Homo sapiens: one gene and its partners. The protein of the gene in region 1 purifies or fractionates together with the protein of each later gene. This does not show direct contact. Each region holds a gene or a part of one and is shown in the gene's direction. Other genes may lie near its edges.

What was found.
Region 2: the proteins of KIF2B (region 1) and CEP170 purify together in Homo sapiens (affinity purification with mass spectrometry; 2 studies listed by BioGRID and IntAct, with this or other methods). This does not show direct contact.
Region 3: the proteins of KIF2B (region 1) and WDR62 purify together in Homo sapiens (affinity purification with mass spectrometry; 2 studies listed by BioGRID and IntAct, with this or other methods). This does not show direct contact.
Region 4: the proteins of KIF2B (region 1) and C4orf46 purify together in Homo sapiens (affinity purification with mass spectrometry; one large-scale study listed by BioGRID and IntAct). This does not show direct contact.
Region 5: the proteins of KIF2B (region 1) and TMEM164 purify together in Homo sapiens (affinity purification with mass spectrometry; 2 studies listed by BioGRID and IntAct, with this or other methods). This does not show direct contact.
Region 6: the proteins of KIF2B (region 1) and ANKRD52 purify together in Homo sapiens (affinity purification with mass spectrometry; one large-scale study listed by BioGRID and IntAct). This does not show direct contact.
Region 7: the proteins of KIF2B (region 1) and VPS8 purify together in Homo sapiens (affinity purification with mass spectrometry; 2 studies listed by BioGRID and IntAct, with this or other methods). This does not show direct contact.

Annotation. Positions count from the first base shown.
Region 1 is NC_000017.11:53,821,475-53,825,693, forward strand, and holds KIF2B (kinesin-like protein KIF2B), read left to right. Parts: upstream 1-1,452; 5' UTR 1,453-1,559; coding exon 1,560-3,581; 3' UTR 3,582-3,719; downstream 3,720-4,219.
Region 2 is NC_000001.11:243,161,282-243,164,781, reverse strand, and holds part of CEP170 (centrosomal protein of 170 kDa), read left to right. Parts: coding exon 1-498; intron 499-3,500.
Region 3 is NC_000019.10:36,085,897-36,089,396, forward strand, and holds part of WDR62 (WD repeat-containing protein 62), read left to right. Parts: intron 1-790; coding exon 791-916; intron 917-3,141; coding exon 3,142-3,209; intron 3,210-3,288; coding exon 3,289-3,410; intron 3,411-3,500. UniProt on the Homo sapiens protein: Required for cerebral cortical development. Plays a role in neuronal proliferation and migration.
Region 4 is NC_000004.12:158,669,088-158,673,373, reverse strand, and holds the start of C4orf46 (renal cancer differentiation gene 1 protein), read left to right. Parts: upstream 1-1,486; 5' UTR 1,487-1,572; coding exon 1,573-1,758; intron 1,759-3,605; coding exon 3,606-3,761; 3' UTR 3,762-4,286. Other genes in the region: ETFDH (electron transfer flavoprotein-ubiquinone oxidoreductase, mitochondrial isoform 1 precursor), read right to left, coding at 884-917.
Region 5 is NC_000023.11:110,006,114-110,009,613, forward strand, and holds part of TMEM164 (transmembrane protein 164), read left to right. Parts: intron 1-3,500.
Region 6 is NC_000012.12:56,237,307-56,241,384, reverse strand, and holds the end of ANKRD52 (serine/threonine-protein phosphatase 6 regulatory ankyrin repeat subunit C), read left to right. Parts: 3' UTR 1-3,578; downstream 3,579-4,078. Other genes in the region: SLC39A5 (zinc transporter ZIP5 precursor), read right to left, coding at 3,654-3,797, 4,045-4,078. UniProt on the Homo sapiens protein: Putative regulatory subunit of protein phosphatase 6 (PP6) that may be involved in the recognition of phosphoprotein substrates.
Region 7 is NC_000003.12:184,850,166-184,853,665, forward strand, and holds part of VPS8 (vacuolar protein sorting-associated protein 8 homolog), read left to right. Parts: intron 1-2,334; coding exon 2,335-2,402; intron 2,403-3,500. UniProt on the Homo sapiens protein: Plays a role in vesicle-mediated protein trafficking of the endocytic membrane transport pathway.

The DNA of each region.
Region 1 (4,219 bases):
GACAGAGTGCTAATGACAAATACAGTGTATTAAGAATATCTACATCATGGCCTTGAAACCAAGAAAGAACAACTGATTTAAAGCACAACTTTAAGTATTGATAATTTGGGGAAATAAAACATGATATTTTTTAGAAGACAATTGCCTAAAGCCCTTTCTCCTCTCCCTCCACCTGCATACAACCTCCTCTTGAAATGAGCACTGCTTACTTATCTAATTTATCCAGTATCCTCCTTCCACCTTCTTTTCAAAATCTAAGCTTTACTAGACTGACTGAACAGAAAAGTTAGTTTATAGTAGAATTTATTTCTATAGAGGCCCTTATTCCTAGGGAAGGTTGTAACTTGCTACTTCATGTTACTTTGGAGCTATAATTATGATAAAATTCAACAGTCCAAAAGACAACATGCACGGGTGTTGCTAGTGAGCTGAACGTAAGGCATCACCCTTACTCTGAGCTTGGCCTGTCTAAAAGTCAATGTCATTTATTTTATAAGCTAATTCTTATGCATGAAAATATTGCAATCTTGGCAAAATATATTTTTGCATCCGATGGTCTTAGCTGCCTTCCAGCCTTGCTTAACAACTTCTAAAGGACACACACAAGTACTGCAGGGGTGGGGGGAGTATAAGATTAATTATCTCTTTCCACACAATGCCTTTTCTTTCTCTCCCAATTATGGATAATGAGGCCAGAAGTGTAATTACTGAAGGAGTTTGGAAAGGTAATTACTGAACTAATCTCAAAAATGGTGGTGACCACAGCACAACAAAACTCACTTTATAGCTGTCAGAGCCACTTGGAATGTGATACACATGTTGTGTTTGCAAACCCAGGTGCTGTACGAAAGGTAGTTTCATATTAGCAAATTACCACAACGACCTGCTACATTCTACTCATTTTGATTTTGTAATGAGAAAGCCGATTAAACTGTAATAACTTTAAGTTGTGACTCTTAAACAAGTTACACGTTTTGAAGGAGGTGAAAAAACAAAGATGGCGGGTTTGAGGAGCCTTTCTGGGATCCTGTTGAATATCGAGTCCTGAGATTTGCAAATAGCTCTACCTTCATCTATTCCCACTGATCACTGGAGAGTTAAAGTTTAAGGAAACTTCATAGCAATTCTCAAATTAAAGCACTGAGCTTTGAGACTGCCAGCCAAGGCCTCCTTTTATGCTTAGGCATAAATGTACACGGGACATATAAATTAAATTTCAACGCCATGGTTCCCGTTGCTTCTCTGTTACCTGTTCTTTCTCGCCATGATCCGGAGAGCACGCCACATCCTCCTCCAACCCCTTCACCCTCACTGGCAGAGAACAATCTCTCCATCCCTTTGTGCTCCCGTACCATTCACTCCTAAGCCCTAGGTTCTGCCGCCTCATCTCATCCCTTTGTGACGTAGTGGCCCCAGTCCGGGCCCCGGCGCGCTAGGCTCACAAAGGCAGGCACAGACTGCAACCCTGCTCAGTGCTCCGGGCGCTTCAGGCTGGCTTGGGTCCTGCTGCTCCAACCCCAAGGGCCCTGGAGCGCTCCCTGATACCTCCATCACTCACCATGGCCAGCCAGTTCTGCCTCCCTGAATCCCCATGTCTCTCGCCCCTGAAACCCTTGAAGCCACATTTCGGAGACATCCAAGAGGGCATCTACGTGGCGATCCAGCGCAGTGACAAGCGGATCCACCTCGCTGTGGTCACGGAGATCAACAGAGAAAACTATTGGGTCACGGTAGAGTGGGTGGAGAAAGCAGTCAAAAAAGGCAAGAAGATTGACCTGGAGACCATACTCCTGCTGAATCCAGCTCTGGACTCTGCTGAACACCCCATGCCGCCCCCGCCCTTATCCCCCTTGGCTCTGGCGCCCTCTTCGGCCATCAGGGACCAGCGTACCGCCACGAAATGGGTTGCGATGATCCCCCAGAAAAACCAAACAGCCTCAGGGGACAGCCTGGATGTGAGGGTCCCCAGCAAACCTTGTCTGATGAAGCAGAAAAAGTCTCCCTGCCTCTGGGAAATCCAGAAACTGCAGGAGCAGCGGGAAAAGCGCAGGCGGCTGCAGCAGGAGATCCGAGCTAGACGCGCCCTCGATGTCAATACCAGAAACCCCAACTACGAAATCATGCACATGATCGAAGAGTATCGCAGGCACCTGGACAGCAGCAAGATCTCAGTCCTGGAGCCCCCGCAAGAACATCGCATCTGCGTCTGCGTGAGGAAGCGGCCTCTCAACCAGCGAGAGACAACCTTAAAGGACCTGGATATCATCACCGTCCCCTCGGACAATGTGGTTATGGTGCATGAGTCCAAGCAAAAGGTGGACCTCACTCGCTACCTGCAGAACCAGACCTTCTGCTTCGACCATGCCTTCGATGACAAAGCCTCCAACGAGTTGGTGTACCAGTTCACCGCCCAGCCACTGGTGGAGTCCATCTTCCGCAAGGGCATGGCCACCTGCTTTGCCTATGGGCAGACGGGAAGTGGGAAGACGTACACCATGGGTGGAGACTTTTCAGGAACGGCCCAAGATTGTTCTAAGGGCATTTATGCTCTGGTGGCACAGGATGTCTTTCTCCTGCTCAGAAACTCCACATATGAGAAGCTGGACCTCAAAGTCTATGGGACATTTTTTGAGATTTATGGGGGCAAGGTGTATGATTTGTTGAACTGGAAGAAGAAGCTGCAAGTCCTTGAGGATGGCAATCAGCAAATCCAAGTGGTCGGGCTGCAGGAGAAAGAGGTGTGTTGTGTGGAGGAAGTGCTGAACCTGGTGGAAATAGGGAATAGCTGTCGGACTTCCAGGCAAACACCTGTCAACGCTCACTCATCCAGGAGCCATGCAGTGTTCCAGATCATCCTGAAGTCAGGACGGATAATGCATGGCAAGTTTTCCCTCGTTGATTTAGCTGGGAATGAAAGAGGAGCAGATACAACCAAGGCCAGCCGGAAAAGGCAGCTGGAAGGGGCAGAGATTAACAAGAGTCTTCTAGCCCTCAAAGAATGTATTCTGGCTTTGGGTCAGAACAAGCCTCACACCCCATTCAGAGCCAGCAAACTCACACTGGTGCTCCGGGACTCCTTTATAGGCCAGAACTCCTCCACTTGCATGATTGCTACCATCTCTCCGGGGATGACCTCTTGTGAAAACACTCTCAACACTTTAAGATATGCAAACAGAGTAAAAAAATTAAATGTAGATGTAAGGCCCTACCATCGTGGCCACTATCCGATTGGACATGAGGCACCAAGGATGTTAAAAAGTCACATCGGAAATTCAGAAATGTCCCTTCAGAGGGATGAATTTATTAAAATACCTTATGTACAGAGTGAGGAGCAGAAAGAGATTGAAGAGGTTGAAACATTACCCACTCTGTTAGGGAAGGATACCACAATTTCAGGGAAGGGATCTAGCCAATGGCTGGAAAACATCCAGGAGAGAGCTGGTGGAGTACACCATGATATTGATTTTTGCATTGCCCGGTCTTTGTCCATTTTGGAGCAGAAAATTGATGCTCTGACCGAGATCCAAAAGAAACTGAAATTATTACTAGCTGACCTCCACGTGAAGAGCAAGGTAGAGTGAAGCCAATGGCGAGAGATCAGGTCCGAAATGCTGCATTGCTGCAGTTTCCACCACTCTTATACAGGAAAACTGTCCAAATTATCTAAAGATCCTCCTGAGAAGCTTAAAACATCTTAAAATACACTGATGGGAAACATGCTCTTTCTTCTGCCTCTGTATTTCTGTAGTTTGTTTTCATCCTGCTGAACTATAGTTTTCAACAGGGAATGGTTCCTCCCCACCCCCTACCAGGACATTTGGCGATGTCTGGAAACATTTTTGATTGTCACAACTGGGGGTGATGAGGATACTGGCATACAGTAGTTTGAGGACCAGAAATGCTGCTAAGCATTCTAAAGTGTACAGCAGCAGTCCCCAACCTTTTTGACACCACAGACCGGTTTTGTGGAAGGGAGTTGTTCCGTGGGTGGGGTTGGGGATGAAACTGTTCCACTTCAGATCATCAGGCATTAGTCTCCTAAGGAGCATGCAACAACCTATATCCCTCACATGCACAGTTCACAATAGGGTTCATGCTCCTGTAAGAATCTAATGCTCCTGCTGATCTGACAAGAGGGGGAGCTCAGGCGGTAATGCCCGCTCACTGCCAGCTTGCCTTCTGTTGTGTAGTGTGATTCCCAAAAGACCACAGACCTACC
Region 2 (3,500 bases), on another chromosome or scaffold:
CTGATGAGCATGTACATTCCAAACTGGAAGGAAGTAAAGTAACGAAATCTAAGACTTCTCCGGTGGTATCTGGTTCATCTAGTAAATCAACCACCCTTCCAAGGCCACGACCTACCAGGACTTCCCTCTTGCGCAGAGCACGACTTGGTGAAGCTTCAGACAGTGAACTTGCTGATGCTGACAAAGCATCTGTTGCTTCTGAAGTATCCACAACAAGTTCTACATCAAAACCTCCCACAGGAAGGCGTAACATCTCTCGGATTGATTTATTGGCTCAGCCTCGTAGAACACGACTTGGCTCACTGTCAGCTCGTAGTGACTCTGAAGCAACAATTTCTAGAAGTAGTGCCTCTTCGAGGACCGCAGAAGCCATCATTAGAAGTGGAGCCAGACTAGTACCATCAGATAAATTTTCTCCTAGAATTAGAGCTAACAGTATCTCTCGACTCTCAGACTCCAAGGTCAAAAGTATGACCTCAGCTCATGGCTCTGCTTCAGGTAAATTGGATCCAGATTTCTAATAGCATTAGCATGTTGTATATTTGGGGGCTCCTTTTTTTTTTTAAAAAAAAAAGTAAGGTTCTAGTTGTCTTCCCAAGATACTCATTCAAAACAAAAGTTATGATATACGGGGCAGCGGCGGTGGGGGGTCTATAAAACAGTTTTATTTAGCATAGTAAATGGAAAATCAGAAGTTATACATACTTCCAATTAGAGTCCTGGCGCAAAATAGTGATTTCAAAACTAGGAATTCATTGAGCTGATTTAGGAGTTTTAATTTTCCAGTTGGTGCTATATTTGGATGTGTGTGTCAAAATTAAATTATCTGGAAGTATCTGGTTTAAAGTATAGGAATTAACATTGTGCTTCTAAAAGCATGTGTTTAACCTTTAAATATCCTCACATAATTCAAAGCCCTTAAGAACTTGAAGAAAAGCAGTATATGCTTTATTACTCCTTTCAGAGTTAAATGAAATAATCAATGTTTTCTTTTTTTTCCCTACCCATTTTGAAATGTCTCACATACTTTACCTATACTTTTTAAAGTTAAATCTGTTTATAGTTGGAGCAGGTGAAAACTAACCTTAATTTATTTCAGTGGAAGAAGATGGATTCATGGGGAATCACTCAGCGTATATTGGCCAAACTGGGCTGTAGAAATTTAACTGGTTATGAGCATTATCTCACAAAGTGCTGTTATATCATTTAACTCTAGTAATTAGGTGTAATTGAATATAATAACTACAAAAACTACTTACTTTCCACCAGAATTTAACTGATGCTGTTATATTTGTTTGCTTATGTGCTTTGTATTCAGAGCTGAGGCCATTGAGATACATGTGTGACCAAAGAGTAATGAGGTGGATATTTGTTTGTGTCCTATATGCATGTTCTCATTACTTCATAATGAGCCTCATATGTGGACGTGGCTGCAAAGGCCAGTGTGGGAGGCCAGCTGTTACAACGGACATGAAGATGTGTGATTATTTTCAGTAGGCAGACATCTAAGTAAGCCCTAAGTCTTGAGTTAAGAGTGGAGGGGAAGTTGATATGAAATTTCATCTTTTTATTTTTGATTGGTTTACATCTACCACACCATCTCCTACAAGACCCTAAAGGAACAGTACTTTGCATATGATACTTTTTTCACTTTTCTTCCTCTTTTCACTGCTGCTTTCCTCCACTCCATTCACCTGTATCTCTTTGCTGGTCAGTGGGTTTGGTAATGATGGTCACTGTCTATGGTAGAAATGGACGTAGGGTGAAGCCAGATAGCATATAATCATGATTCCAAAAAAAATAGACAACATTTTCCTTATTACCCCAGTCCTCATTTCCACACTTGAAGCTTTGGTTGGTGGTTCACAAATTTATTGCCAAATATTTTAAAACTAACTACTACATTTTGGTTTATTTTCATTCTGTTTTTGGTTATGGCTCTACTTCAATTCACATTTCATCTGTGCTGCATTTCCTGATGAAATTTCTTCTGCTGTACTCCTTGTTTTATCACCTCATCTCCATTAAGATATGTATGTATTTTCCTGTCTTAACATAATTTCTATGTTACCAGATAGCTTGGAGTACCTCTTAACACATGATGTGGTTTTATTCCTCGATATTTAGGATAAGGCTTGAGATGCAAGCTAAATATGATTACTTCAGCAAGTCTAAGAAACAACTGTAAGATGCTATATATAAAGACAGATTTCATTTTCTGCTTCTTTGAATACAGAACTTGATAAATACTCAGTTTTCTGTGTCCAAAAATAACCTTGAATTGTGTATGAAATTCCCTAGGACACATTGATGTATATGATTTTAGTCTTTTCATACTTACTAGCAGTATATTAAATAATTAGAATCATGGAATTTAAAAGTTAGAAGGGTTATTCTCTTAAGGGAACCAAGGCCAAGAGAGGAAATAACCTGCCCTGGGCACATGGCAGTGGCAGGGGCAGAATAAGAATCAAAGACTTTTAATCCCCAGCCTGTTTTTCTACCGTATCTATTCTAGCTCTAAGAAATAGTTTCAGTGTTTACTTGTATGCAAGCTTCCAGAAGACAGCTAGAATCTACTGGATTATTATCAGGAGTATATGCAAGGTCAATATACAATATAAAGGTTTTGGTATTGTTTACTAAAATCTTTGCAGTTCTGATGTTTTACCCAGTTTATATTCTCTATTCCACCTTATGAGTGTAAAGCCATATTGTAATCTAGGATTGTATATTCAGATTCTCTCAAGATACCCACTTATAGTATTAGACCTTATCTAGGACAGTGGCCAGGATCTTTCCTTCAGTGAGAACATACTATAATAGCTGTATGGAAAAGGTGGTCAAACAAACAAACCTACCTGTTTGATTTTGCTAATTTGGTGCCTTTGATATTATAACATTTCTTTTTAAGATAATTATAATATTTTGAATGGAAAAAGAAAAGCAAAATTTTAACTTTTGAAACATGATTTAAAAGAATGTTAAATCATGCCGATCAGTGTTGCTGTGCACAGTATAAACTTTAAAGACCTTGGAAATAATCTGAACCTAGCACTTGTGATATTGTCCCAATTGGATATGTAAAAATAATTCCATAATGTTTCCAATTCCATATTTTAGATGATGTCTCTAAAATATTTTTAGGCCAGCACAGTGTTTCATGCCTGTAATCCCAGTATTTTAGGGGAGGCCAAAGTTAGAGGATTACTTGAGCCCAGGAGTTCAAGGCTGCAGTGAGCTGTGATCACACTACTGCATTCCAGCCTTGGACAAGTGAGACCCTGTCTCCATTAAAAAAAAGTTTTTTTTAAAGAAATGTATGTGATAAAAATAGAAGATTGGAAATCTCAGATTTAGCAATATGAAGAGAAGAGTTCTGTATGTTTCTCTGATGTAATTTGCAATTTGCTTCTAGGAGTTTAACTAGTTTTTTTTTCCCCAAAACATTCTTTCAGTGCTTCTTTTTTTTTTTTTTGAGACGGACTCTTGCTCTTGTT
Region 3 (3,500 bases), on another chromosome or scaffold:
GGTCTCAAACTCCTGACGTCAGGTGATCCACCCGCCTTGGCCTCCCAAAATGCTGGGATTACAAGCGTGAACCACCATGCCCGGCTCCTCAAGATGTTTTCTAGGCTGGGCACGGTGGCTCATGCCTGTAATCCCAGCACTTTGGGAGTTACAGAGTTGGTGGAGTTATATCCTGATGTGATTTTCCCCATGTTCTTCTTTCGTTCTCTCATCCCCCATGCTGTGTGCCCCACCAACTTGTCTTGAAACATATCTTCACTCGGTTCGCCTCTCCTGATCTCCCCTCTGCCTCAGGTCATGTTATTAGGCCTCAGACATAGCAAGTGACCAGAGTAGGGAAGGCTGGTGGCAGATGGGAGTCTGGCCACAGGCAGTCAATAGGACCTGAACAAGGCCCAGGTAGCCAGACCTCAGAGGGTGAGAGGACACTGGTTTTGGAAGAGGCTGAGAGGTTGCCAGGGCTTTACCCAGCACAGACCCAGCAGGCAAGAGCGCTGGGCTCTGCTGGGGCGTCTGCTGTGGATGTCCCTGGAGGAGCGTCCATGCGCCCATCGAGACTCATCCTCCCTGAGCTGGTGGTGAGGAGGTGAAATGCCAGGGTGTGGGGGCTCTGGGAAAGACCACACAGAGCTAAGGGAGTGGCCCTTGCCAGGCTTGGGCCAAGTTGGCTACAGTTGAAGAACCAAAGACCCCTTCTCCGAGGACTGGGCAGCTTGGTCACACTGCCCTTCTGGGAGGCCAGGGCACCCACGCAGCCTTCAGGAACCAGTCTCATTCTCTCCTCTCACAGGGCTGACCTTGCTGGCCTCAGCCAGTCGGGACCGGCTGATCCATGTGCTGAACGTGGAGAAGAACTACAACCTGGAGCAGACGCTGGATGACCACTCCTCCTCCATCACCGCCATCAAGTTCGCTGGTGAGCCCCTTTCTTCCCGCTCCCTGCGCCTTGCTAGCTACCCTGCTAAAAAAGGATTCATTCTTTCAACTCTCCTGTAAAATATATATCCAAACAAGTGAATACAGTATCTGTGTACAGTATACAGAATAATGACTGGGGCCGGGTGTAATGGCTCACACCTGTAATCCCAACACTTTGGGAGGCCAAGGAGGGTGGATCACCTGAGGTCAGGAGTTCGGGACCTTCCTAGACAACATGGTGAAACCCCGTCTCTACTAAAAATACAAAAATTTGCTGGGCGGGGTGTTGTTTCTGTAATCCCAGCTACTCAGGAGGCCGAGGTGGGAGAATTGCTTGAACCTGGGAGGTGGAGGCTGCACTCCAGCCTAGGCAACAGAGTGAGACCCTGTCTCAAAAAAAAAAGAATAATGGCCAGGTACCATGGCTCACACCTGTAATCTCAGCACTTTGGGAGGCCAAGGCAGGTAGATCATGAGGTCAGGAGTTCGAGACCAGTCTGGCCAACATAGTGAAACCCCATCTCTACTAAAAATACAAAAAAATTAGCCAGGCATGGTGGTGTGCACCTGTAATCCCAGCTACTCGGGAGGCTGAGGCAGGAGAATTGTGTGAACCCGGGAGGCGGAGGTTGCAGTGAGCCAAGATTGCGCCAGTGACTCCACTCCAGCTTGGGTGACAATGCGAGACTTTGTCTCAAAAAAAAAAAAAAGAAGAATATAGGCCGGGCGTGGTGGCTCATGCTTGTCATCCCAGCACTTTGGGAGGCTGAGGCAGGCAGATCACCTGAAGCTAGGAGTTTAAGACCAGCCTGGCCAACATAGTGAAACCCCGTCTCTACTAAAAATTCAAAAAAAGTAACCGGGCATGGTGGTGCACACCTGTAATCCCAGCTACTTGGGAGGCTGAGGCAGGAGAATAGCTTGAATCCAGGAGGCCAAGGTTGCAGTGAGCCAAAATTGTTTCACTGCACTCCAGTCTGGGTAACAAGAGCAAAACTCCATCTCAAAAAAAATAAAAATAAAAAATAAGCTGGGCGTGGTGGCCGAAGTGAGTATCCACAGTTCTTAGGAGCAAGGTTTGAACTAGGACGTTGTTGATAGCAGAGACTGTTCTAATTGCTCATGGTCGTAATATTGTTAAATACGGTACTTGGATTCACCACGTGCAGGTTAAGAAGCAGAACATTACCAGAGGCTTGCAGGCCTTCTCTGGGTCCCTCCCAGGTTACCCTTCCTCCCTTATATGGGGCTCACTCCCTTCTGTGAGCCAATGACTCCTCCTTGAGCAACATCTAATACTTGTATGTCAGGCCTGGACCCTCTCAAATGTCCTGTCATGAAGGAGCATGTGTGATGTGCCCAGACTCAGAGTTTTATATTTGTTCTGTCATTTCATCCTCACCAAACTGTTATTCTGTAAAGAAATGAGACGGCCGGGGGCATCTCACGCCATTGCACTCCAGCCTGGGCAACAAGAGCGAAACTCTGTCTCAAAAAAAAAGAAATGAGAATAATAAAAGCAAGAATGTTTCTAATGCTTACCATGTGGCAGTCCCTGTTCCAAGGGCTTCACATCACTCTCCAGAGAAGGAACTGTCACCATGCCCATTGTACGGACCGGAAGTTGAGGCTCAAAGGGGAGGCCCAGGTTCAGAGCAGTGTTTAACAGCTTTGACCTTGGCACCAGAGAATGCCTGGGTTCAGTCCTGCCCCTGTCCTCTCTGTGTGCCTTGGGACAAGGACTCTGTGAACCTCTGTGTTCATGCTTGTCCAGTGGGATGGGTGGTGAGCATTCAGGAAGACCCGCTACATGCATGGGGCCTGGCCCAAGGCTCATGTGGATCTTGCAGTTGATCCTGATGGCACGAGCCTCCCAGCCTGTCTCCACTGGTCGCTGCTGCAGTCCTGCCTCTACTCCGCTACTCAAGTCACCTATCTCAATCCCAGACTGGAGAGGGTGTCCCTTCTTTGTCCCCAGCCTTTGTTTCTCTATATGCCCTTGCTCTGCAGAGCCTGCCTTGGCCACAGCTCCACCTGTGCCCCCTCACACGTACAGCTCATACCTTACAGAGTCCCACCCAGACCCAGCACCCACCTCACCACCTTTAGGAAGCCTTGATCCCAGCACAGTTGATTGATGGCTCTTGCAGTGGAGTTCCCCAGCTAGGGTCCCCTGCCCATGTGGCCCAGCCCTGCCTAACACACAGCGTCCTCCTCCCCTAGGCAACAGAGACATCCAGATGATCAGCTGTGGGGCTGACAAGAGCATCTACTTTCGCAGTGCCCAGCAGGTAGGGTGGCATGGCCTCCTTGGGGGCTGGGGTGGGGGGTTGTCGGGGCATTCTCTGAAGGTCCTGCCGGCCCTGCCAGGGTTCGGATGGACTACACTTTGTCCGTACCCACCACGTAGCAGAGAAAACCACCTTGTATGACATGGACATTGACATCACCCAGAAGTACGTGGCCGTGGCCTGCCAGGACCGCAATGTGAGGTAAGGGGTGGCCCTGGACCCTTAGCTGGCCTGGTCTGCCTTGTCCTAGGCTGTCTGCTTTCCTCCCTCTGTTCCTCTGGTCCCCAAGAA
Region 4 (4,286 bases), on another chromosome or scaffold:
TGTCACGATGGTTCACAGAATACCCATAACACGATAAAGCCCTTAGAGTTAATTTAATTTAATTTTTTTTTGAGACGGAGTCTGGCTCTTTCACCTAGGCTGGAGTGCAGTGGTGCGATCTCAGCTCACTGCAACCTCCACCTCCGGGTTCAAGTGATTCTCCTACCTAAGCCTCCTGAGTAGCTGGGATTACAGGAGTGGGCCACAACGCCCAGCTAATTTTTGTATTTTTAGTAGAGATGGGGTTTCACAATGTTGGCCAGGCTGGTCTTGAACTCCTGACCTCAGGTGATCCATCCGCCTCAGCCTCCCAGAGTGCTGGGATTACAGGCTTGAGCCACCACGCCCAGCCCTTAATTTTAGACAACGCAGAAAAACTGGCTCCAGATACACTTGGGTGACTTGGTCAACATATGAATGTTAACCATGATGTGACAGATCAGACTTCAATTTCTTTAGACTGAACTAGAATGGCTCCGAAGACGAAAGTCAGGTCAGGACCAGGGAGAAAAACTGGGCAAATACGATTTTTTTTTTTCCATTTCCAACAGAGGTTTGAAGATTAGAACCAGGATTTGGGAAGCCTCAGTTCAGGAGTCCACCGAGGTGTGTGTGTGTTGACAGGTGGTGGTGATGCCGAGGGCGTGTTGACAAGTTTTCCCCGCCCTTGACCTTTAGCCTAGATATTAATTCTACCAACTGGGGCAACCCCAGAGGGAGGAAGCCAGGGTCCCCCAACAGGCTGACAGCGCGTGACCTTTGCCCTAGATAGCCTGAGAAAGCTGATGAGAGAAGGGGCGAGAGGTGCCTACAGCCCCCAGGACCGGCCTTGTCCCTTTTGCCCTAACTCCTCCACTTATCCCCACCGCCCGTTTCCTCTCACCCAGGCAGGACAGCTTGGCTAGCGGCACCAGCATGTTCAAAGTCACCAGGACTCTCGGTCGGACACAACAGGAGGACTGTCCGCTGCTCGCGGCGGGCGCTGGACCTCTAGGCCGCGGGGGGCGCCATCACCTGCCGGAAAGCAAGAACTCTGCTGCAGTTCGCCTCCCCGCTCTGCCGACCGCTCTTGCTTCACGGCGTTCCCACCTCCTTCTCGCTCTGCGCCGGCGCCATGGATGACGCAACGGCCAGCCGAGGCTTCCGGGTCATGTACCAAACCAGGGAAAGATAAGGGACTCCAAGTCCCAGCCGGGGAGCGGTGAAACAGCCACAGCGCGGCCAGAGGGGTCCGCGAATCCCACAGCACGACGCACGCGCAGTGAAAGGCAGTAGAAGGCGGGGCGACGCACACGGCTTCCTGGGAGGTGTAGTTTTCTCTACGAGTGCCCTTCGAGATCGATTGGAGGCTCGCGCAGGAGCCGTGAGTTGCCTAAGGTGAATTGACTCATATGATTGGCTGTCCCGAAAAATGAAACGTCTTTGTGGTCCGGGGCTGAGACCCACGAGGAGACTGGGCGGGATTTCTGGCGTTAGGAGGCGGGGCCTTTCGGCTTTGGGCGCGAGTGGTTAAAAGACAGTTGGTGTCGGTTCGGCTTCTCGGGTCGGATTCCGCGGTCCCAACCCTTCCCCATGGCCGACCCTGAGGAGTTGCAGGTTTCTTCGCCGCCCCCGCCGCCTCCCTCTTCTCCCTCCTCTTCAGACGCCTCTGCAGCATCTTCCCCGGGCGGCCCAGTGAGTTTGGGCTGGCCAGTTCCGAGCAGGAGCAGCGGCCCAACGGTGGACCAGCTGGAGGAAGTGGAGCTGCAGATCGGAGACGTGAGTGTGGTGTCGGGACCGCGTCCCCCCTCGGCGCCTCTGGGAAGACCGGCGGCGGCGGGGCTCGCGAGGCTAGGGAATCGGTCCCCCAACCCCCATGACCCGGGACGACCGGCCCTTCTGCGCCCCAGAGCGTGCGGGCGGGAAGCGGGGGGGATGCCAGCAGCTAAAGTGCCACCCCTCTCTGAGGGTTCCCCCTTTAGATTTAGTGGTGAGGAGTCTTAAGGGGTTTTCCTTCCACCCGCCCCACCCCTCACTGGTTTCTTTTTGTCTCGCCTTCTGGTTTCAATCATCCGCAGTAACCCGAAGCCACGCAGCTCTGCGCTGCCTGTTGCTGGCTCTCTGCCTCCTCCTTTCCCATCGGAGAATAGTTTTCATTGCATGGGTTTCGGAGAATAGTTTTCACTGCATGAGTTTGCTGGCTTTCTGTGGGTACTTGAGATCAGGCTGTGATTTCTTTCCATGGGACTTAGAGCCTGCTGTTCTAGTTGGCCACCTGCCCAGGGACAGCTGATAATGCCATTGTCTGCCCCAGGCCTGCTTAGCGCTGGACCCAGCTTGAAGGGTTTAGGTCACGTGGATTGGCTTCTTTGACGGTTTAGTTCAGGACTCCTCCCTTTGTATGATTGCTAGAATGCATACTTAGGATAGTTTCTGTTAAATCTCGAATCCCCAGAAACTAGCACCCCACCTCCCAACCGTAACTCACACACCACTGGAGGGGAGAAGACAGGGAAGGGGAGTTTTATGTTCTCTTGAGTGGGTCAAGTGGAATGAGGTATGTAGAGTGTAACCTGGGAGAGTTCTGTGGCCTGACCTTTCCTGCAGATTGGAAACTAGGGGATGAACTAGATTATCTCATTGCTCCGCAAGTATTTTTTTTTAAGGATGACTAGAGTGCTTAACCAGCTTTTATTTTTGCAGAACAAACTGATTGCAAGTAAATATGTAGAATGAAGTGCTAATGTGTTATTGAGGAACACTGTTTTATTTTATATCATTGGTGAAGAAAACGTTTGGCTGAAAAGTGAATTTTCCACCAGGAGCTGAGTGTTTTCTGCATTTGTGTGTGATTTTTTAATGTTATTTGTCAGAGCTCAGAGTTTCTGTTCTTTGATCTATACATTTTCATTGTTTAAAGTGTTCACAGGTCAATGCCCATGTTACCCAAATAGCAGTAAGAATTATTTATGATGAAATCTCTCAGATATATCTGGCGCTTAGTGTCAAGGGGTCCAAGTCATCTTGTTGAGCTGAGACTCTAGTGTATTTTCATAGAAAACAGCAATCCTGGGCCAAGCACGGTGGCTCACGCCTGTAATCCCAGCACTTTGGGAGGCTGAGGCAGGCGGATCACCTGAGGTCAGGAGTTCGAGACCAGCGTGACCAACATGGAGAAACCCTGTTTCTACTAAAAATACAAAATTAGCTGTGCGTGGTGGCGCATGACTGTAATCCCAGCTACTAAGGAGGCTGAGGCAGGAGAATCACTTGAACCCGGGAGGCGGAGGTTGCAGTGAACCAAGATCGCGCCATTGCACTCCAGCCTGGGAAACGAGCGAAACTCCGTCTCAAAAAAAAAAAAAAAAAAAGAAAACAACTATACTGATTTGTCATATCTCAGACATAATGGATATTTTTCTAGCAGACCTGTTTCTTCAAAGTCTACTCAATATTAAAGAATTTCTTAGGTTCCGTGAAAGAGCCAGTGCTGTAGTTTGAAAACTGATTACTTTGAAAGAAAATAACATGGGCATTGGATTCAAAGCCTTAAGCTATTTTCAGCCTGCTTATAAAATGAGATGAGAATTTTAAAAATAAAATTATGTTTGACTTTTTTTTTTTAGGCAGCCTTTTCATTAACCAAACTTCTTGAAGCCACATCTGCAGTATCAGCTCAAGTGGAAGAACTTGCCTTCAAATGTACAGAAAATGCACGTTTCCTTAAAACGTGGCGGGACCTCTTGAAAGAAGGCTATGATTCTTTGAAACCTGATGACTGATTTGGCATACTTCGTTGTTTAATAATGACTGCAATAATTCATACTTCTTATGTCATATTTTGTACATGTACCACACATATAGGATGACCTCTGTCCAGCAGTTCTGTATATACTCAGAATGAAATTTTTCTTGGTTTTCTTGGTTTTTGTGAAAGCAGAATACCGATGCTATTTTTGTTGCGGACCAGTACTTGTTTGTCCTTAAATACTTTATGCCTCTGAACTTTCATAGAATCCTTTATGAAAGTTAACTTCATCAATAGACGGTTAATATTAATAGAGCCACAGTGCTACCAGTAGCAAACTAGGTAGACCATTATTTGTTTTGCAACAAGATGCTAAGCATGGCAGACTTTGAAGTTGCGTTTCATCTTAAGGACCAAGGGAGGTAACTTTAAGGTTGCCAGTGGTGGATCCAGCTCCGTTAGGCTAAGTTGTCTACAGCTAATGATTGTGTCTTTATTCTATATCCCCAGCACCTAAAACAGGGTCACACAACATTCACTAAATGTTTGTTGAATAAAA
Region 5 (3,500 bases), on another chromosome or scaffold:
TGCCCTCCTAGCTCTTGACAGTCTATGTGATTCTTGTCTCCATAAGTCGTAGATGGGTATGCAACAGAGAGCTATTCTGAAATGCTTTTGACCTCCTGTGTGGAAAAAAAGGAAGCTAGTTTCTTCTCTGTGGAAGTCAGGTGGCCAGTTCCCATTCATTGTTTTCTCCCTGTGTCTTCCCAGTAAAGTAAACTCAACTGGGCCATGCTTGGGAACTCATGCAGAGGATGATGGCACTTTAGGACTCTGAAGCCTTAGGATGGGGGCATGGAACAGAGCCATGCCGAGGAGTTCTTGAGCTCCATCAGAATTATGCTTCTTTGCCCTTTTCCCCTAAATCACTGCTTTGTATCATTTAAATAGTAACCCCTGGCATACCAGGAGACCTAGCCTCTGATTAATCCAACTTTCTATACCCTCCATATGGCTTTTCCTGGGAAGCAGGAATGTATGGATTTTTAAAAGTTGATGAGTCCTAAAAAAAAAAAAATTAACAGCAGATGGTTGGAAATAATTTTCTGTCTTGGTTGCAGCAATGACCAATGATAGTATGTATACCCAGAATACCATAATACCTTGCATTTATCTAACAATTACTGTTTATAAGATACTTTCATATACATTGTTACTTTTAGCTTAGGCCTGGAGAAAGGGATGTTAAAATGTTTCCTGCAACAGTGTATATTCCAAAGAGGAGATACTATGTACAAAGAAATGTTTGGCAAGTGAACTAGCTGAATTAGGCTATGTTGTAGTGGCAAATTCTGTGGAATTTAGAAGTCCTAGCAAGGAAAGAGAGATATTAGCTGAAGTGAAAGGGATAGCTTAGCAGAGACATGTCTGATATGTGTCTCTCAACAGGATGACTCAGTTTTGGCTTTATAAAAAGGCCTTCTTCCTCAGAGAGTCAGTGTAAGTTTGTAACAAGGGAGGTATTGCTTTAGGCCAGGAAATAGATAAGTTGGAGGGAAATTGGTTAGTCTCCGCATCTCTCATTTTTCAGTCTGCAACATATTCATTCCCAAGGCCTTGTTACACAGGCTCTCATCATAGCCATGCTGCCTTTGAGTGACTGCCAACTGTAGTAGCATAAGGAAGGGCAGTACTTGTGTCCAAGTTCTGTTATTGATTAATATTCGTCCTGTCAGATTTCATTTTGGCCTTGTCTGATTTCTCAAACGTGTCCTGGGACTGTAGACTGATACAGGCATGTATGGTTGACCTAGCACTGTCTCACAGCTAAGCCTCCAGCCAGAGATATTTGAGTGTTCTCAAGATCAGCAAGCACCAAGGTTACCACATGGTTGCTAAACCCCTTGCTAAATATCACTGGTGTCTATCAATTATACCAATAAGTATTTCTTCAAGCATGGCCAGTCCCTTTTTGCTTATGATTTTGGCAGGTATGGGTGACAGGGAGTGAATTTATGGAGTGACTGTACTGTTTACCAAAAATCACCCAGTAAGTTAGTGGCACAGGTGGCTTTAGAACTGAGCTGCCACAGTGGGAATCTGGCTTAGCAGGAAGAGATTCTCATAGCTATTTAAGTCTTAAAAATCTACAGTTTCTCAGCAGAAGGGTTAAAATGCTAGATAGTTTGACTGATTGTTGTAAAGACTGGTGGTCTTAATTTAGTGGCCCTTTACCCTCCTTGAGTCCAGTTATATTTGTCTTAGAAACTTAAGAAAAAGATCCCATTTGGGATGTCTTGTTTAATTGTCCAATTCCTGTTGGTTCTGTATGTGTCTGTGCCAACATCTCCTGATTAGGCACAGAACTTAGTGGGGTGAAGCATATGCAGTTTAACCCTCCATGTCTATGCGCATAAGGCAGGCTGTATCCAGGCTGGATATTTGGCAAAGAATAATTGGTGCTGTTGACCCCTTAGTCCCAAGCTGTTGGTTTTTAGTGAGTAACACTGAATCCCATCCTTTTTTAGAGTTGCTGTAGCTATTTGATTTTTTGTCTTCTTTACAATATATTAGAAATCTAACTTCAACCAAATATGGCTTACCCGCTTTTGGTTCACTGTTTGATTTTCTTACTTCCTCTCTCCTTGCTAAAAGTGTAGAATGACACACACTCAGAAAGTCCTGAGCTTTTTGTGAAACCCCTTGCAACTCACTGAATACACACTGTTGCATTCCGGTTGTTATGTGATGAATTTGTTTTAGAGAAGACCTGATGGATTTGAGAAACTTGGCTTTCTGTTTTCCCCCTTGACTTCACACCAGACACACCTCCTCATTCTCCATCTGTTGTCTGGAGCACTGATTATCATTCCTGCTTGGAATTGAAGTTGGTGGGTAATGGGTACAATAAGGGATCCAGCCATCTGCTGACAGCTTATCAGATGGACTGCGTCCTGTGTCATCAGTCCAGGGGGATACAAGGGGATGATGTTTATATGGGCCTCACTAGTGAGGCATGACATTCCTTTTTAGTTTGTTTCTCCCCCCAAGGAAATTTGCAGAGAATTTTTCCATCTTTCATTGTTACAGTCATTGGGGGTGTCCATATAAAGAGAGGTGCTGTGGATTGGTGAATTAAACAACCCACAGGCAGCCCCAGGATTTAAAATTATGATGCTAGTTTTGCTCATGGCTTGCTACAGGAACCTCAGCAAACTATTTAACCTTTTCCTATCTCAGTCTTCTCTGTGAAACGGGCCACATGGAAATGAAGCATTTGAATTCTCTGAATAATTATGTGGTCACTTAAACAGAGAAGCTGGGCAAAGCTGGTCAAAGATGGCAGATGACCAATACAGTTTCAACTTCAGACTCAGAAACCGACAAAGCTCAACTCCTTATACCTTTCTTGATAGCTTCTAGAAGGCATTCCTCTAATCATTTTTGTTACTTTTCTCTGGATCCTTGCCTGTGTCTGGATACCTTTCTGATGCATGGCATATAAAACTGGACACTAACTCTTACCAGAGGTCCAGCCTACACCAAGCAGAGAGGAAGTATTTTTTTCCCAGTCTTTTCATGCCTTGCACCTGTTAATACAACTCAGCTTGCTTTTAAATAACAGTATGTTGCTGGCCCCTACTCAGTGGATGATCCACAAGCTCACAGAATTTTTATTCCTTTGCCACAGATGGGCCACCTTCTTCTCAGTCTTTGTGAGACTTGTTTTTAGTTTCCTCCCCCTCTGTAAATACTCCCCTGAAGATTCTCCTCTACGAAACCTTTCCATAGGAGCCTGACCTGACTCCAGTAACACTTTTTGTCCTTTCCCAGCCGTCTGAATACATGTCAGAATGTTGGGCTCTTTAATGAATACCTTTGTATGCATGTAGGTAATCTGGTGTTTGGCCAGATCATTTTTTTTTGTTTGTTTGTTTTTTGTTTTTTGTTTTTGCATGTTTCTTTAATGTTTCTCCACCATTAGTGGGAACACTTTTTTAAAGTAAAGGAGTAGTGGATTTTTCCTTTGTAACTCCTTGCAGAGCTGAATATAATACTGTATATGCACATTAATTGTTTAATGTGTA
Region 6 (4,078 bases), on another chromosome or scaffold:
CGGATACCTTTAACCATACCTCATGCTGGTTTCCAGAAGCCTGGGGTGTTGTCCAAGTCCTTATCTTTTCATGGTCCCTTTTGATCCCCTGTCTCTCTGTGTTTTGCTTCTCCCAACCCTCAGTTCCTAAATCATTTCAAGGCTTCCAAATGACCATTATTGATGAGAAGGATTGTGCAGCTTTTAGTTTTTATTTTTATTTTCAAAGCCAAAGGGCCTTGTGACGCCCCTCTTGCCCACCTCCCTCCACACCGTGTCCTCCCCTATATGACAATCAATGTGACCTCTCTTAAGGGCTGCAGCCCCCATCCCCAACCCTGCTGGCTCTGCAAAGCTTGCCTTCCCTTCAATTCTCTCTCCTGAAATCTTCCCATTCCACCCCCTCCCTCTCATCTTGGTGCTGGGAATTAGGTGGTGGGGGGCAAGGGGAGTGAGAAGATGGGTCCTCCAGAGAGAACTTGCCGGGTGTGAGTCGTGTTCTCCTTTCGTGATGTTTGGTGATGGCGGGAAGCGTCTGAGTGTCAGAGCCCCGTTGTCTTGCTAGATGAGATTTCTGGGGGCTGTCTGCGCCCTGCTGCCCTCAGCGCACTGTCAGCAGTGCTGGGAGGTGGTGGGGAGTCCTCTGTCCCTCCATATGTGGCTGTGAGGAAGCCTGGGGGACAAGCAGCCTCCTCTCCTTATGCCAAAGGAAACCCCACGCCCCACCCTGGGCTCCCCAGCCCTAGTGTTTTTTGAAGCATTTTGACCATTCTCATGGCCACTGCATATTTATTTTAATGTTAAGATTTTTTTTAAACCTCTTTGACTTAAACGGGTGTGGAGAAGTAAAACAGGCAGAATGCCCCCCAGTCTTCATGGGGGAGGGCGGGGAGGGAACAGCGCCTTCCCTTTGCCCTCCCCCTCCCCCCTCTCCCCACCGCAGCCCTAAAGCACTTGCTTCAAGTAATAAGCACTTTTGTGAAAAGGCCTATTTTAAGCGAGGACCCTGGGAGCAGCCCCAGGTCCCAGCAAAGGAAACAGAGCGAGGGCGACATAGGAGACAGGGAAACAGACGTGTGAATCAGAGGGTGAGATGGAAAGAGCCAGTTTTTAGTTTCTGATTTTGGGGGAGCTATTTCTGATTGGGCGGTGGCTCTGGTAGGGTCATATACTATCCTTCAGAAAAACGAATGGCACAAACCGTGGGTCCCAGGAAGGACCAGCAGACCCGGGTCACTGCCACTGTCCACTGAGACTGACGGGCCACCTCCCCTGCCCCGTGGCCCCCTGAGCCATAGGACTGCTGAAAACCACTGAATGTACAGCCCAGGTTGGGGTGGGGAGCAGCCCCTGGGGGAGGGGGCTTCTCCTTTTGTTTGGTGCTGTGGGGCGTGGGAGAGAAAAGACTGAGGGACTGCCACCCCACGTAGATGTGTTTCTTGGGGTGGAGGGGCTGAGGAGGGCCTACCTCCCTCTCCAACCCCAGCCATGGCCCCTCTTCCTTCCTCACCCCTATCCGTTTTGACTGTAAGTCCAGCTCACCTTTGCCTTCAATATGTAACCAAAGGAAAACTCAATACTGTTTCCACCACTGTCTGCCCACCCGAGCACCTTCTTACTCCCTGGACCTAGAAGGGGAGAAGAGGCTGGAGGTGGGGTGGATGGGGCCAGAGTGAACGGTTCTACAGCTGTATCCCCAGAACCTCCTCCAGGGTCTTGGAAGGAGTCCTGAGAGGTGGGATTGGGGCCGGGCTGGCAGGGCTGAGTTTGCGCACTGTGTATCTTATGCACATGAGTGTTTTTGTCTAAATGACTCCAGTGACTGCTCCAGCGGGGAGGCCCCTTCCTCCTTCCCTCTCAGCCATTTCTCACCCACTTCCCATACCCAGTGTTCATCCCCTACCTCCCCTTCCCACCGCAAAGGAAAATAGCCTTACAGACCCTAGCCCAGAAACCCTACTCCTGGGGCAAACCAGTATGGGCCCCCATCCCGCCTAGTTTGAACCCTACCTTTTAAGAAGGAGGGATAAGGAACAAAGCAGCCCCTTCCCCTCTAATTGTGGTGGCTCCAGCCTTCTGCAGCCTTGACCCAGGTTGGGCAAGGGCGGAGGTGAGGAATCTTTGAGGACCAAGCCCAGTGGTCTGGGAATCGGGAGGTAGAGAGGGAAGGGTCTGCCTTGGGGGCTCCCTCCTCCCAACCCAACCCCTAGAGAAGCGACCAAATCCCAGAGATGGGGTGAAGCTGGGGTGGGGAGGGTCTGCTCTTTGAATTACTTGAAGGTACTGACTCCAAGGCTGCTGTTGCCCACTTAGGTGTGAGGGGGACACTGTCACTGCATTTGGGAGGGCAGAGGGTGGCGGGTAACCAGAGGATCCACCTTGGCCCTCACCCACTCCTGCTAGGCCCTTTCCCTGGGGAATCTGGAAGCCTGACTTTGCCCCCAGGGAAGTTGGGGACCGCCTTCCCTCCCTTCTCCACCTCTCACTCTGGGCACCCTCTCCAATTGCACTAAAGTAGCTGTTGTGCCAGTCTGCCCCCCACAAGGGGGGAGGTCTCTGCTTCCAGTCTTCTTCCCCCGCTGCCTCCGCTCCCACCCTGGACAATCTCCTTGTTTCCCTTGTGTTCCTGGATAGCTCAGCTTTGTATGTGTGTTTGGGGGGTGGGGGTGGGTTCTGGCTTGAGTGGGTTTGGCAGGGGTTTGGGAAGGGTTAGGGGAGGATGGAGGATGAAGTCTCCTACCCCCTTCTCCAGCTCCAGGCCACAGAAGCCTGGGAAGGGAGGGTGCCTACTCTCGCTGCTGTGTGTCTTGCAGATGTGCCAAAATGGGGGTGGGTGGGAGGGGAGGGTGCCTGGCAGAGCAGCCCCTGGGGTGGCTCTCTCAAAGCAATATAGTTCCCCTGCGGGGGACAGCAAGACAGGGGAGAGGGTTGGGGTGGGGACCTGGGGGTTCCCCATGTACAGCTATGTATATTCAGGGGTGTTCTCCGTCTGGTACCCGCTGTGGGCATCTATGTGTGTGTGAACCTCCCCTTCCCCATGCCCTGCATGACCTGTGATGCTGCAGACACCACCATCCTGTGTGCAGGTGTGTGTTGGGGGGCACGGAGGGGCATGTTCCATGTCCTGTTGCACCCTCCACCCTGTGACCCATGTACTCGGTTGTAGGAAGTAAAGAGAACTGAGCACAATTCACTGGATTCTAGTGGAATCTTTCTCTAAGCAATTTTCCCATTCCTGCCTCTCCCTGCCCCGGAACCACCTGTGGTGCTAGTGTTGGGATCGGGGGCGTTTAACGCTGGTGGGCAGCAATAAGGGGCAGATGTGCCCAGATGCCTGCATCCCCAGGGTGCCGAGGGCAGCAGGAAAAAGTGGGGACCTCGGTGCATTTGCCCCACCCCTCCCCTCCCTGGGCTAAAGCACAATGTTCTCCCCGCAGATTAATGACCCTGCACCCTCCAGGCCCCTACTCACATCCTCCCCCAACCGGCTTCGGGTCCTCCCACCACACTCTGGTTTTCTATGCTGTTTTGGTGCAAGTACAACTGTCGTAGTCATGGCTTTGGGATGGGTTCTGTTTATTAAAATCCTATTGCTCCTACTGGCCCTGTGTCCCGCCTCCATTCCTGTGGTTGGGGGGAAGGAAGGGCAACCCGACCCCTTTCCACTGGCCCCATCAGCCCTCAGTGGTCACGGGCAGTAGCCGCTCCTCCAGCAGGGTTATGGCAAGCATGAGGCCGCCCCCCAGCAGCAGCCCCAGCCCCTGCAGGAGCACATGGGGCGTAGGCAGGGGCTCCGGAGGACGAAGCAGGGCTGGTAGCTGAAAGAAAAAGAGGATGTCAGGATTCTGGCCTTGCCCCTGACCTCTCAACTCCAGAGGAATGGTGTCAGAAAGCATCAGCAGCCCCCACCCAAACACCTTAGTCCCTTGTTTCTCAGACTTTTGCGGGCCTATGGTCTGACGCCCTTCCAGGAGCTAATGGTAGAGGCGGAGGGACTGCTACCTCCCTCTCCACTCCCGCCTCCCCACTGCCCTTGATTTCTCTGCTCTACCCGACATCTCTCACCATGTCCACAAGGGCCACATAGAGGAAGACCCCA
Region 7 (3,500 bases), on another chromosome or scaffold:
AACATTGAGCTGTCTTTTATTTGACTAGCCCAACATGATGTTTTTCCAGGTTAAAACTAGAGATGGGCTAGTATGGAAATACTCAGCTTCAAGTTGTATTGAAGTCTAATTGATACAGCGGCAAAAAGGGCAAATTGGTGTGTTGCTAGACTAGAGTTTGGCCATAAAGATGGGCAGCACCCTGCTGAAACTCATATGGAGCTCTTAAAAGGTCTTTTTACCTTTGTTTAGGTCATCAAAATTTTATTGCTGAGGTGGTGTGCTCTGTCACCCTTTTTTGGGAGTTGCCTGAGGTTCAAGGCACAGATCGTGAAAAAACCAAGGTTTGGATTATGTTTAGAAATGAATCTATTGGTTTATTTTCTTTCAGGCCTCTAAAGGGAAAGCATTAAGATCCTAGTCTTGGCTTTCTCCTTATAGGCCTGAAAAAATAAACTGACTTAGGTAACAGATTTCATTTATAAATACAATGTGAATGTTGATTCTTCCACGCTGTCAAGCCCATGTTCAGAAGCATAAAAGGTAAAGGATTATAACTAGAGAAGTCTAAAATCAGATCTTCTAGATTTTAATCATCTACACATTTTGTTGCTTAGCTCTGCAGAGCTCTGTCATCCGTAAGTATGCTTTTTAAAGTCTGCAAGCATCTGGAGTTTGTATGTCTGTATCTAAGTTAGTTACAAAAAAGTCTTCTGTGACAGAGCAGCGTTGAAGCATTTAGTAACAATAAAAACAACCAAGACAAGTAAAAGTGGAGAGAATTTCTTCTCTTTCAGAGCATTATGGCAAAGTATCTTGACCTCTTTTCATATGGCTTGTGCCAACTTCTAATATGTTATAGTTGTTTGTATATATGTCTTATCTCTCTTAGTGGATGAATGTCTTTGAAATCACAATCTGTTTGTCATTTATTTTTGTGTTTTACCCATAGTAGCTGCTCAATAAATATTTGATTGAAGGAAAAACTAGATGGTGGTGTTTATACAAGAGAAATCCTTTTGCAGAAAAAAAAATACTGGGAGAAAGAATAAGAAACAGAAGAGATAAAAGCAGAGAGAAAAGAGAAGAATGCAGTTGAGATAAATAACATATAGTAGGAGCCATTGTGTTGCTTGACAATGGTGATGAAGGTGGTACATGTAGATAATAACACTGGAGTAAGACACATAGGATTGAATATTTCTGAAGTCTTCTACTGACATCAGCCACTTGCATTTTAATACTCCTACACGTTGTTCTCCAAACTTAAGCCTGTATCTCATCAATAACAATTTGGAATTTCATTCTTTATGGATATTTATGTGTGTGTGTGTGTGTGCGTTTATATGAATACACTACTTTACTAATTTTTATGTACATTATAAAGCACGTACAAAAGAAATAGAAAATTAAACAGAAATACAAGTTCTGTTATTTTTCCTGCACTCCAGCGGACCATGTCATGCACACACCTAGGGTATATGCTTCCCACTCTGGCAACTGCTCATCGAGGCTGTAAGAGCAAAGTTGTGGGGCTTCTTAACTATGCGTGTGTTTGGGTCAAGGAAGAAGAATTTTACAGTGGCCTCCAGTACCTCAGCCATCCCTGACTGGGAACCTGAGGCGTGCTATTTAGGATGGTTCACTAACCTTTGAGTTTAGGGAGGATAGTCACTGTAAATGGTACAAGTTCAGTTTATTCCATTTTGTGTCATGCAGCATTGACCATACTTCAGGTCACCTTAGGACTGTCTGTCATTGTGAACATGACTTATTATTCTGAGTTTTCTAAGTTAGGTAGTGATAACTGAAGTATATGCTGTGGAAGAAGATCAAGGAGGTAGCACGTTTTGGGAAGAGTTACATATGAAAAGTTAAAATGTTTTAGATATAGTGGACTTACTTTTCAGCTATTCAGAAGACATATTCAGATAAGTTTATTTCTCAAAGATACCAAGTATTTTTTAGAGTCTTTATTCTTTAAAACTGGGCAGGTGTAAATGTAACCAAAGGATCTCATTTACTTAGTAATAGCAAGTTACAAAAAGTTATTGTAAGAACCCAAATAGAGAACTTTAGGGTTTTTAATCAATCATAGTTTGTATTTTTCTTTTATCGTGATGAAAGGTGGTTTTGCTTTTTGAAAGCCTCTGTTTTTTTAAAGATATTGGACCATTATTACTCTAAATAAAGGTAAGTTTGTAAGTTTAGAGTGATGAGCACTGAATCTAGTTTAGGTTATTTCAAAAGCTATTAAATGTGTATATTGTAGTTTTTCAAAATTGTATAATTTTTTCCTCCTTAATACTTGACTGTTTAAAAATGTACAAGAAAATAAATTCCTTCTCTGTTTAGTTTACAGATGATCCAACTCTTGCAATTTGCAACGACAGCGGAGGCTCTGTTTTTGAATTGACATTTAAGTAAGAGACTAGTGGACATTTGTTGACAAATGAAAAGACTAGCTCTGTTTTAATGATTTGAAATTGAACATGAAGAGGACTAGAAAGCCCCTGTAATTGAGAGTAGATTATGACTGTGTATTACAATTACCTGGGAAGGCTTATATTAATAGAACAAACAGAGTTCTGGGCCTGGTCCTCCCGAGTTTTATCTCAGTAGGTCTGAGTTGAGATTCTAGACTCCTACTCCCCAGAAGATTCTTATATGCTGTCAAGCTTGGGACCACTCTTCTGGAATAGCTCACTAATTTTGGTTTAGGCTCAAGGCCCAGTTGATTTTAATCATAATGGGCAGGTGTAAACAGGTTTTTAATTATCTTAGAATTGCCATGTTTGCTCTTTAAGAGCAAAGACTGTCTAGATACATCAAAGAACATTTAGGAAGCAGAGTTTTTTGAAAAGTAGAACATAATATTCATTGAATATTATGTCTCCATAAGTTCTTCAAGGTTAACAACTATCTTTGTTTCTTGTGTTTCTCATAGCTTCTAACAATGCTAAGTACAAAGTAATTTCTGAAAAAAACATACTTCTTATTCAGTTAATGTTTATTGAGCATCTCCTATGTGTAGGTATTTATCTAGATCCCAGAGTTATAGCTGTGAACCAAGCAAAGTTTCTGCTCTAAGAGAACTTACATTCTAGCTGCAGTAAGGGTAAGGAAACAGCAAACCAGCACGTAAATGAAATCACCTCAGATGGATGTAAGTGCTGTGAAGAAAACAAGACAGGGGATTGCACTAGGTTGTACTTGAGGATAATTCTGGAATGCCTTTCTCAGAAGGGGCAACATCTGGAAAAATAACTGAATGGTGAGCCAGTCAACAAATGCACAGATCTGAGGAAAATATTCCAGGCAGAGACCATTCAGACACAAAGACTTTGAGGTGGCCACAAACTTGGCATGCTAGAGCAATGGAAGAAAGCAGGTGTGGCTGGAGTGTGACTTTGTCAGGAACACAATAATGGGAGAGGAGTGAAGGGAGAGCCAGATCATATCCTTTTAAGACATGGGAAAGAGTTTGGATTTTATTTTTTATGTACAGTAGCAAGCCAGTG